Homo sapiens: one gene and its partners. The protein of the gene in region 1 purifies or fractionates together with the protein of each later gene. This does not show direct contact. Each region holds a gene or a part of one and is shown in the gene's direction. Other genes may lie near its edges.

Evidence for each region.
Region 2: the proteins of RNF146 (region 1) and SUPT16H purify together in Homo sapiens (affinity purification with mass spectrometry; 4 studies listed by BioGRID and IntAct, with this or other methods). This does not show direct contact.
Region 3: the proteins of RNF146 (region 1) and HLTF purify together in Homo sapiens (affinity purification with mass spectrometry; 4 studies listed by BioGRID and IntAct, with this or other methods). This does not show direct contact.

Annotation. Positions count from the first base shown.
Region 1 is NC_000006.12:127,269,748-127,273,402, forward strand, and holds part of RNF146 (E3 ubiquitin-protein ligase RNF146), read left to right. Parts: intron 1-3,655. UniProt on the Homo sapiens protein: E3 ubiquitin-protein ligase that specifically binds poly-ADP-ribosylated (PARsylated) proteins and mediates their ubiquitination and subsequent degradation. May regulate many important biological processes, such as cell survival and DNA damage response.
Region 2 is NC_000014.9:21,352,959-21,356,613, reverse strand, and holds part of SUPT16H (FACT complex subunit SPT16), read left to right. Parts: intron 1-2,073; coding exon 2,074-2,203; intron 2,204-2,781; coding exon 2,782-2,911; intron 2,912-3,048; coding exon 3,049-3,126; intron 3,127-3,655. UniProt on the Homo sapiens protein: Component of the FACT complex, a general chromatin factor that acts to reorganize nucleosomes. The FACT complex is involved in multiple processes that require DNA as a template such as mRNA elongation, DNA replication and DNA repair.
Region 3 is NC_000003.12:149,041,410-149,045,064, reverse strand, and holds part of HLTF (helicase-like transcription factor), read left to right. Parts: intron 1-2,774; coding exon 2,775-2,899; intron 2,900-3,384; coding exon of another isoform or gene 3,385-3,396; coding exon 3,397-3,575; intron 3,576-3,655. UniProt on the Homo sapiens protein: Has both helicase and E3 ubiquitin ligase activities. Possesses intrinsic ATP-dependent nucleosome-remodeling activity; This activity may be required for transcriptional activation or repression of specific target promoters.

The DNA of each region.
Region 1 (3,655 bases):
ATGTGTCTGCTAACTCACACCTGATTTATCTACTCCTTTTATGTATATATAATTTTTTTTGAGTTGTGTACCAAAAGTTGGAACATTTCAAGTATTTTTTCTTTCTGTCACTGAGTGATTTCATGTAGAACATTTACTGTTTTGTGTATTTTGAATAAATGGCAAAAATCTTATTAAACATTAGCTGTTAATAATTAGAAAAATACAGTAAGTCTTCAAATATTTATAATTGATATTTGTCTTTGTTTTTATATGTATTTATATTGATGTTATATGCTCATCTTTTTCTTTGATTAAAGATAATCGCTTGCTTGAATCTATTACCTGAAAAAAACTCTTGACTTTGATCTTGTGACTGACTTGAAAAGTGGGAGTATGAGTATTTTGAGTTGTTACAAATTATAAATGGTACAATATTACTTCATTTTTAGTTGTATTTATTTTTCACTTATTTGAATGGGTCAAGATTTAAATTCATTGATAATCCCTAAACCCCTTTGTGTATTTTTAAGTTTTACCTGTCACTGTTTTTTTCCTCCAGAATTGTTAGGGGCAAAGTATCTAATTTGGTTTTAGACTTTTTCTTTTTTTTATGTTACCTTCTTCATACATCATCATATTAAGTTTGGTGTAAAATTTACAGGTCATTCATTCCAGTAGGAATTATGTATGTTTGAGTTATTTATGTTTGGCAAATTAATTCTGGCCTGTAGTTGAAATCATACTGTTCTGTTTTACATCCCCCTATTGGTTAAAATAAAAGCATCCCTTCTCCTCCAACTTTAAAAAAACTTTGGTTTCAAATAATGTGGGAGTTTTCTGAGGGCTTCTTCACATGATTGTTATAAGTATTACATGTATGCCCTATTTTGTGCCCAGTTGAAATTATAGTTGACCATTGAACAAAGGTTTGAACCGTGTAGTTCCACTTATACAATACTTTTTTTTTCTGCCCCTGCCACCCCTGAGAGAGCAAAACCAATGTTTCTTTCTCGTCCTCCTGAAAAAGATGAAGGCCTTTATGATGATCCATTTCTACTTAATGAATGTAAACATATTTTTCTTCCTTATGATTTTTTTTTTTTTTGAGATGGAGTCTTGCTCTGTCATTAGGCTGGAGTGCAGTGGTGCGATCTTGGCTCACTGCAACCTCCACCTCCCAGATTCAAGAGATTCTCCTGCCTCAGCCTCCCAATTAGCTGGGACTACAGGTGTGCGCCACCATGCCCAGCTAATTTTTGTATTTTTAGTAGAGACGGGGTTTCACCATGTTGGCCAGGATGGTATTGATCTCTTGACCTCATGATCTTCCTGCCTCAGCTTCCCAAAGTGCTAAGATTACAGGCGTGAGCCACCGCACCTGGCCTCCTTACGATTTTTTAAATAATGTTTTCTTTTTTTTAGTTTATTGCAAGAAAACAATATATAATACAACATACAAAACATATATTAATCCACTGTTTATGTTATCAGTAAAGCTTCCAGGCAATAGTAGACTATTAGTAGTTAAGTTTTTGGAAACTCAAAAGTTTACATGGAATTTTGACTGCGCAGGGTGTAGACATTCTTAACTCCTCACATTGTTCAAGGGTCAACTGTATAAATTCTGAGAGTTAATAGGTGATGGGTCAGTTTGGCAGAATTGGGGCTACCTAAACCCATTAACTTTGATTATAACAGAATATGCAGTTTTCTTTTTTAATGTGTCTTCGGCAAAAGTCTAGGTAAATTAACATTGAATTCATTGTCTCTATTAAACAATTCCTGTAGTGACTTGTCAGTTTTGTATTTAACAAGATTAATATGCAAGACATTCTAGACCAGCATTGCCCAGTAAAGTAGCCACTAGCCACATGGAGTTATTGAGCACTTGACATGTATCCAGTCTGAATTAAGTTGTGCTGTAAGTGTAAAATACACACTGGATTTCAAAGAAGTATGCATACGCTTACCCAAGAACATAAAATATTACATTAACAATTTATATTGAAACATACTGAAGCAGTAATGTAGAAACGTTGGATTAAATAAAATATATTATTGAAATTAATTTTACCTGTTTCTTTCTATTATTATTTTTGTAGAAATGGGGGTCTCACCATCTTGCCCAGGCTGGTCTATAACTCCTAGGCTCAAGCCATCCTCCTGTGTCACTACCCACAAAGTGCTAGGATTACAGATGTGAGGCACCATGCCCTGCCTCTTTTTATTATTAATGTGGCTAATAGAAAATTTGAAATTGCATACGTGGCTTGCATCATATTTCTATTAGATAATACGTGACCTTTTCTGTGAGAGACAATACATTGTAGAAAGACATTTTTAAAGGTAAATTTGAATTTGAATCGCATCTCCCAATATTGATGGCTTTGACTTTGGGTAAGTCATTTAACTTCCTGAGCTTAGGCTTCCTCATTTGTGAAATAGGTATAGTCATATTTCACAGGGTTGTTTTGAGGATTCAGTGACATATGGATTTGGTAGTGTTTCACTAACTAATATATGTGAATCACTTGGAGATCTGGTTCTGTAGGTCTAGGGTGGCACTTAGGATTTTCATTTGTGAAGAGCTCCCAGGTAGTGCTGATAGTACTAGTTGGGAATCCCAGTTTGTTTGTATAGCTAGGATCTAGAGCATTATGTTAGTTTTAATTCATTTTCCTTCCCCAGCATTTATCCAGTTAGTCTGCACTTTGAAAAAATTATTCATGAGGATATAGAAATTGAAAAAGTCACCAAAGCATGCAAGATTTACTAAAATTATATGAACTGTGGACTCTTAGGGCTGCTGTAGGATTCCTGTTTACATCTGTTAAGTTTTTTGTCTGCTTTTATCTGGAGTCACTTTTATTGGTTGCATAAGATGGCTAAATCTCAGCCAAGAAGAACCTGGTTGTGTTGTTCTACGCAAATGTATTTTTGAAAGATAATGCATAATGAGAGGTGAAATAAAAGAATGCTCAAAGACAATAAGAGGGCAGTACAATTGACCCTTGAGCAACATGGGGTTAAGGGTGCCAACCCCTTGCACAATTGAAAATCTGAGTATAAGTTTTGACTTCCCCAAAATTTAACTACTAATAGCCTACTGTAAAGTCAGTTAACACGTTGTTTGTTATATGCATTACATACTATATTCTTACAATAAGCTAAAGGAAAATAAATTCCTAAGGAAGAAAAAATACATTTACAGTACTGCATTTACCGATACTGTGTTTATGTTACCTGTTTATAAGGTGTCTGTCTGAAATGATGGGTAACTGCAGCTGCAGACCCATCTAGGGTGTGTACCAGGTAATTTAACTTCTTGTAATGGCATGACTTCTTGGCTTCTTGGGAGCACTTCTAGCATCACTAGTGGCACTTCACATGGGTCCCATGGTGTTATTCAAGGTTTATGGTATTGTACTAAACATGATGAAAAATACACAAGAACAAGAGATTACATTTTACTCCAATACATGCAGAGATGATTAGTGTCCACAGCATTTTAAGTGGAAATTCATAATAGCAACAGGAAATTATTACAGTATGTACTACAATTAATTTTATACAGCTATGATTCATACTGCATCTTTACATTTGTTTAAATTTCTTGTACCACCTCAAGTGGCACCATATGTGTCTGTGTTTACTAAGTTTTGATACACTTTAA
Region 2 (3,655 bases), on another chromosome or scaffold:
CATGTGCTACCACACCCAGCTAATTTTTTTTTACTAGAGATGAGGTTATTCTAGGATGCAGTCAAGTTAGTTGGATTCTGTTTGATCTTTCAAGGCTTGTTCTCAAATGTCTATTAGTGTGGATTTAGAACAGCCTTTAAAAGTTTCACTCAAAAACTTCCAAGTAATTGGCCTTACTACGAGGCAATACTCTTCAGAGTCTGCCTGATGCCCTGTGGATTGTGAGATCTCTCTGCTGAAGCTGGTGGAAAGGTGGTGGAAATAAATCCACTGGAACACGATTTATTTCTAGTTCTGTGTGAGATTGGGAGTTGTCTGTCCTACTGCTTTCCAGTGCTTCTTTATGCAGTTCCAGTTTTCTCATGAATGTGTAGATCATCCCTCCACCAAAGACTTGAGGGGACCCCTCTGCAGATCTCTGGAGCTTTCTCTCTGGGAAACTCTTCCTTCCTGTACTCTTCTCCACAAATTCTAGCTGTCCCAGCCTTCCCAAATCCTACTTTGTCTCAGTTCCTGGAGACCATCAGGTTGTGGTGGATTCTCCCTCCCTGCATAGCAGGCTAGGAATTGCCTCTAGACAGAAAACTGGGGCAAATGTTCAATTAACCCTTGTTGTTTCCTTCTTTCAGGGATTATGGTCTTGTGCTGCTTTTTATCCAATGTCTGAAAACTGTTGTTTCATATTTTGTTTTGTAGTTGTTTAAGGTGGGAAAGTAAATCTAGTCATTGTTACTCCATCATGGCTGGAAGCAGAAGTTGCCGTGTATATTGTCTAAAGTGGATTTATGCCAGTGGTTCTCAGGCAGATTTTATGGTTGTTTGTTTTTATCCTTACTATTGTCATTTCTTTGATTTTTTTCTTCTTACCCACTCTTAACTGATTCAGCCCTCCTCAACAGAAGTGAGAAAGAGAAAGTCATTTGAGCATTGTCTAAATACAGGGCACTTTAGGTACTGGGAAAAAAAATTTGTTCCTACCTTCATACAGATTTTGCATCAAATAAACAACACATAGGAAAGCAGTGAAAGGTTGAAGAAGAAAGGCTAGGGCCATTGAAAATTGTCCCTGTTTCTTTCTTTTTTTTTTTTTTTTTTTTTTTATTATTATTATATATTTTTTTGAGACAGAGTCTCACTCTGTTGCCCAGGCTGGAGTGCAGTGGCACGATCTCGGCTCACTGCAACCTCCACCTCCCAGGTTCAAGCGATTCTCCTGCTTCAGCCTCCCAAGTAGCTGGGACTACAGGCGCGTGCTACCATGCCTGGCTAATTTTTTGTATTTTTAGTAGGACGGGGTTTCACCGTGTTAGCCAAGATGGTCTCGATCTCCTGACCTCGTGATCCGCCTGCCTTGGCCTCCCAAAGTGCTGGGATTACAGGCGTGAGCCACCGCACCCGGCTGAAAATTGTCCCTATTTCTTAACTACAATAGTGAAAAACAGAATCGCAGAAGTGGTTATGAGTTAAGACTACTTAGAAATAAGAATGGAATCAGTGACAGAGAGGGAAAAGCATGGGTGAATAGGAGAGAAGACTAAGTGAAGAAGAGGGAAATTGGTGTTTAAGGAAGAAAATGGGAGAGGATGAGCTCAGACTCAGGTGAAGGAGAAAGCTTGTTTCAGTTGGAATGTTGGTCTGTTGTGAGGGCTAGTGCTCTAGGAGATCAAATAGCAGCCATTGGGACATGATCTGGTGGCATAGTGCAAAGAATATCTGCTCCCAGGCAGGGCGCGGTGGCTCACACCTGTAATCCCAGCACTTTGGGAGGCTGAGGCAGGTTATTCACCTGAAGTCAGGAGTTCTAGACCAGCCTGACCAACATGGCAAAACCCTGTCTCTACTAAAAATATAAAAATTAGCCAGGCATGGTGGCATGCGCCTGTAATCCCAGATACTCGGGAGGCTGAGGCAGGAGAATCACTTGAACCTAGGAGGCAGAGGTTGCAGTGAGCGAAGATTGTGCCACTGCACTCCAGCCTGGGCAACAGAGCAAGACTCTGTCTCAAAAAAAGAAGAAAGAATATATGGAAAATACAGAAGATTGATTTGACTTTGTCATGTCATTTCTCTTAGTTCCTGCGACCTGAAATACACAGAAGGAGTACAGTCCCTCAACTGGACTAAAATCATGAAGACCATTGTTGATGACCCTGAGGGCTTCTTCGAACAAGGTGGCTGGTCTTTCCTGGAGCCTGAGGGTGAGGTGCGTGAGTGTGGGGTTTCTTTTCTGGTACACAGTGTTGCCCGCTATCATTTGGTCAGTTAGAATGGAATATGAGTAGTACATAAGGGACTAGGCCATCTGGGAGAAGCTCTAAACACCACTTGATATTATTGTTTCTTCAAATTGATAAATTGATTGGGCAGTGGTAACTAACTCCTGACAAGATTTCTTGGAAATTACAAAAACTTTTCCTCAATGAGTTTCTTAGCATTTAGGGAAAAATCCTTCAGGGCATTTTGCAAAAATTATTTTTTAAAAAATGATCCACTTAACGTTTGTGTGATACGTAAATACAGAAAGTCTTTCTGTTGTTAATTTCCCTGGGTGAGGAAGGCTAACGTGAATTTTTCAGAAATGTAATAATACATAATAATAGTAAAATAATAATTGCACCTGACCACTAATTTTAAACAAGTCATTTTATCTCTTGATCCCTCAGATTATTTTGCTCTTGTTTTCTTCATGTAAATACTGGTATACTATGTGGGCTGAATTAATTCATTAAGTTAATAAGGTAAATGTCAAAAAAAAATCAGTATTATGCTCTAACTCACCAGGGGAGTGATGCTGAAGAAGGGGATTCAGAGTCTGAAATTGAAGATGAGACTTTTAATCCTTCAGAAGATGACTATGAAGAGGAAGAGGAGGACAGTGATGAAGATTATTCATCAGAAGCAGAAGAGTCAGGTTAGTCTTACAGAGCAAAGTTCGTCCTGGCTTCCTAATCTAATGTCATTTCTGAAAACTACTTTTTTTAGACTAAGAACTCTGTCGTTCCATTCTGTTCCCGCATGATGACTAACGCTTAATTAATTTTCTTCCAGACTATTCTAAGGAGTCATTGGGTAGTGAAGAAGAGAGTGGAAAGGATTGGGATGAACTGGAGGAAGAAGCCCGAAAAGGTTTTTAAAAATGTGTTGTTTTTTATTCATTTGTCTACGCACAAATTTCTAACACATTTCAATATTTTGAGGTGTTAGTATTGATGGCGTAATGAAAGTAACAAAAGAACACTATAAAAGTGCTTTGGAGCCACAGATACAACTTCATTGACTGAAGGAGAAAATGAGGTGTGGAATGTGTCCATACTCTCCAGTGGGCAGTGCTCTGCCAAACTGGATGCTGTTTTCATCTGCGCAAGCCCCCATCTTTCCTATAGCCATGATAGCCACATATTCATGTAATACTCAAGAATTAGCCTACTCAGTTTCCAAACCTAAATCCTATAATACTTTAATTTTCTAGGCTTCTTCCAGGTTAGGCATGTCTTTATAATGCTAATCTAGTTACTCTGAAGCCAAACCCCAAACAAACGTTTTAAAGCTTAAAAGGAAATAAATATTAACTGCTGTGTTCCAAGCATTGGGAATAGGTAGTTTTCATAGGTTACCTTATTTAACCCTTAAATAATTCTCCCTTTTGTAAATAAAC
Region 3 (3,655 bases), on another chromosome or scaffold:
GACTTTGGCTTTTACTTTTTATGACAGGAAACCTTAAAGGGTTTTGAGCCAGGAGAGGGACGTAATCTGATTTATATTTTTAAAAGATCACTCTGGCTGCTGTGCTCAGATTTAGGTTATTTGAATAGGAATAAGGTCAGAAGTAGGGAGACCAGTGGCAGTCAAAGCAAGAGATGATGGTGGTTTTTACCATAGTAGTGATAAAGGGAGTGAGAAATGATTAGATTCTGTTAAATTGTGAACGTAGAACCAACAGAACTTGCTGGTTGATATGTTATGGCATGTGAAAGAGGAATCAAAGATAACTTCAAGCCTTTTTACCTGCATAAGTGGAAGGCTGGAATTGCTGTTTACCAAGACAGGTCTATGGGAAGAGCAGAGATTTTTTTAAGCTAAGATCAGAAGCTCAGTTTTGGACACATTGATCATAGGATGCCCGTGAATTTTCCAAGTAGAGATATCAAATAATTAGTTGGATAGGAGAGTCGAGTTCAAAGTCAGCTATGTGTGGATGGTAATTAAAGCCATGAGATCACCAAGGGAGTGAGTAAAGTGAAAGAGATCTAACTGTGAAGATAGCAATGGCTGGTGAAATAGGAGGAAGGAAGCTTCTAATATTTAGCACATGGTAGGCACTCAAAAGAGATCTCTTAAATTGAAATGCTGAGTATCAGTAAGATATGACCATGCCAGGGAATAATTAGTGTTAGTAAAGGTTATTCTATTTGAAAAAGTTGAAAAAGATTAACTTTATTGAAACTGTTCTCAGAAAATAAGTTATTTTTAAAGTATTCTTTTTAATAGGCTATATATTTACTAACATTTATTTAGCACTCACTAGGTGTTATACATTGATCTTAGTGCTTTAAATGTATTCACAGCAATCCTATTAGGTCAGTATAATTATCCACATCTTATAAGTGAGGAAACTGAGGCACAGAGCAGTTTAGGTGACTTACACTGTTGTCACACAGCTAGTGAGTGACAGGACAGATTAACTCTGGCACTTTGGTTTAGAGCTTGTAAGTTTAATCTTTGTATTATTTTGCCTATTCCTTGCATTCTTGAATATTCAGAAATGTTTGTTGCCATAATACTACCAGTACTAATACTAGCAACAGATTCATGTATAGCACTTAATATAGTCCAGGCACTATTTTAAATACTTTACATGTATTAAATTAAATAACAGTAGTTGTATGAGGTAGGTACTTTTACAATGCCACTGTTAGAACTGAGGAAGCTCAAGACATAGGTTAAGCAACCTGTCCAAGGTTACATAATTAAATTGGCACAGCCAGGTTTTGAATTCATGACCAGCTAGCTCTAAAAATTTGTACTCTTAGCCGTTAGGCTATATTTCTTCTGTTGCCTTAAAATACTTAAATATCAGATGGCCTGGTTATATAATTTTTGGATCACCCATTTCCTTAAGAATCTATGTTGTCATTGTACCACTGTATTTTGTATAGAATGTTTCTGTGGGGAAGCCTGGTTTTTTTTTTTTTTTTTTTTTTCCCTCTGAAGTTCAGCAACTTCTTTGTTGACTTTCCCCTGGGACATGTGATATTATTTAAATCTTTAGATTCCAGGCTTTTCCCCCCTTCTCTTTCCTGGAAAGCTTTCTTTAAATATTGTTTTCTGTTCCATTATTTTATTTCTCTCTGTGTATGTTAGATGTCTTTTATCTGTGTTCCATAGGTATCATTTTATTTCTGATCTTTTACATTTTTTTGTTTAATTTTGATTTTCTCAGTCCTGTTTCCTACATCCTTTTCTATGTTTTTATCAGTGACTAGTCTTTTTTTATATTGGCTTATATTGGTTTCAGTGTGACTTTCATTTCTCTGATGATTCACTGTTTTCTTTCACTTTCTTGAGCCATACCAGCTCATCTTTCATCTCTTCCTGTTCTCTTGCCATATTTTTTCAAAGCTCTTTGTCTTTGCTTTAAGATTTTTTTTTTTTGGAGGAATTGTTTTATTGAGTGGTGTTAAATTGTGACAGTATCCTTGGTCATAATTTTTATTTGCTCTGTGGCAACATTTTTCTGCTGAGTTTTCTTTCACTGCCATGTGTCCCCTACCTTTGCTCTCTGCTGATTATTACTTATATTTGAATATCTTGAGTTCTTCTTGGACTAGCTATTTGCTAGTCCAGATATACAAAAGGGAAAGGTCACAATCATGTCCCCGACCAGCAGGAAATAACCCAATTTACTTAAGACTCAGGGTTACATGTTGAGTTACTTTAGGTTTTATTAGTACACATAAACAGAGATCAGAAACTTTAGGGGTGCTTGGAGTGTAGAGTGCTGTGCCCATAGTCTTTTTTTGAAAATACAGTGCACCTGTATGTTTCTGTATTCAGTTTACCTTCCCTCTTTTTTTGATATAAATTTCTCCATGGAAGCTCAAGTCACCAAGCATGCACCCTGTTCCTGTTTCTGCACATGAGAGGTATTGATTTTCCCCTCAGGGCATGCCATCCATTTTAAAGAATTGTGTTTTGGCAGCTCTGTTTGAGATCTGCAGTCATCCCTCTCAGCATCTTCCTATCTGACTTAGACTGCAATTGGCAGCCATTTCTCATATATTGTGCCTTATTGTTATAGATCTCTCTTGGTTTTATTAGAGTTGCTTTTCTGCTTTTCATTCTTGTTTTGGAGTAATTTCTAGAGAAGAAAAGAAAAATGCCATTTTACTCTGCTGTTTTAGAATAGGAAGTTATTATTGTTTAGCGGACTTAATAATATTTGACATTTTAATCTCTAGGTATTTTAATGAAGGGACTGTCCTGGCACATTATGCAGATGTCCTGGGTCTTTTGCTTAGACTGCGGCAAATTTGTTGCCATACTTACCTTCTTACAAATGCAGTGTCTTCCAATGGCCCCTCAGGTAGGTAAATTTGATTGCTTCATATCATTGTATTTGTCAGAGATACTTAAATAAGAGTGATAAATTTTTTTTATGTGGCATACATTTAGTTTATTTTGTTCTGTCAAATGGAGATTGCTTTTAGTGTGAGACTCAGCTAGGAATACATCCAATAATTTTTTTACCAATGAAATGGAATTATAATGAGGTCTTTCCAGGAATTCCGGTGATAGATACCCTTTGATGAAAGATTCATATTGGATCTGCCTTTTATTGTGTGGTGGTATGTTATTGTCATGTTATAATGATGCTTCTCTATGAGGTATATTATGTGAGTTGGCTACTATTTTGGCTTCTGAATGTTTCTTAAATTTCAAATTTAAATTATGCTTTTTGCCTATGGCAGAAAATGATGAGAGACTTTCCCTACTGGCAAGCGAAACTTTTCCTTATAAGATAGATTAACTTGTCATATTACAAACCTTGCTCTGAAATTAATTTTTCAGCCTTTTCTCTAGGAAATGATACACCTGAAGAACTGAGAAAGAAGTTAATAAGGAAGATGAAGTTAATTCTGAGCTCAGGTTCAGATGAGGAATGTGCAATTTGCCTGGATTCTTTAACAGTTCCTGTGATAACACATTGTGCACATGTATTTTGTAAACCCTGTATTTGCCAAGTCATTCAGAATGAGCAGGTTAGTTTTTTGCTCAGTACAGGTTCAGTGTTTGATAGAGTAGTGTACCTGTCTTTAATATAATAAAAGATAGTATATGG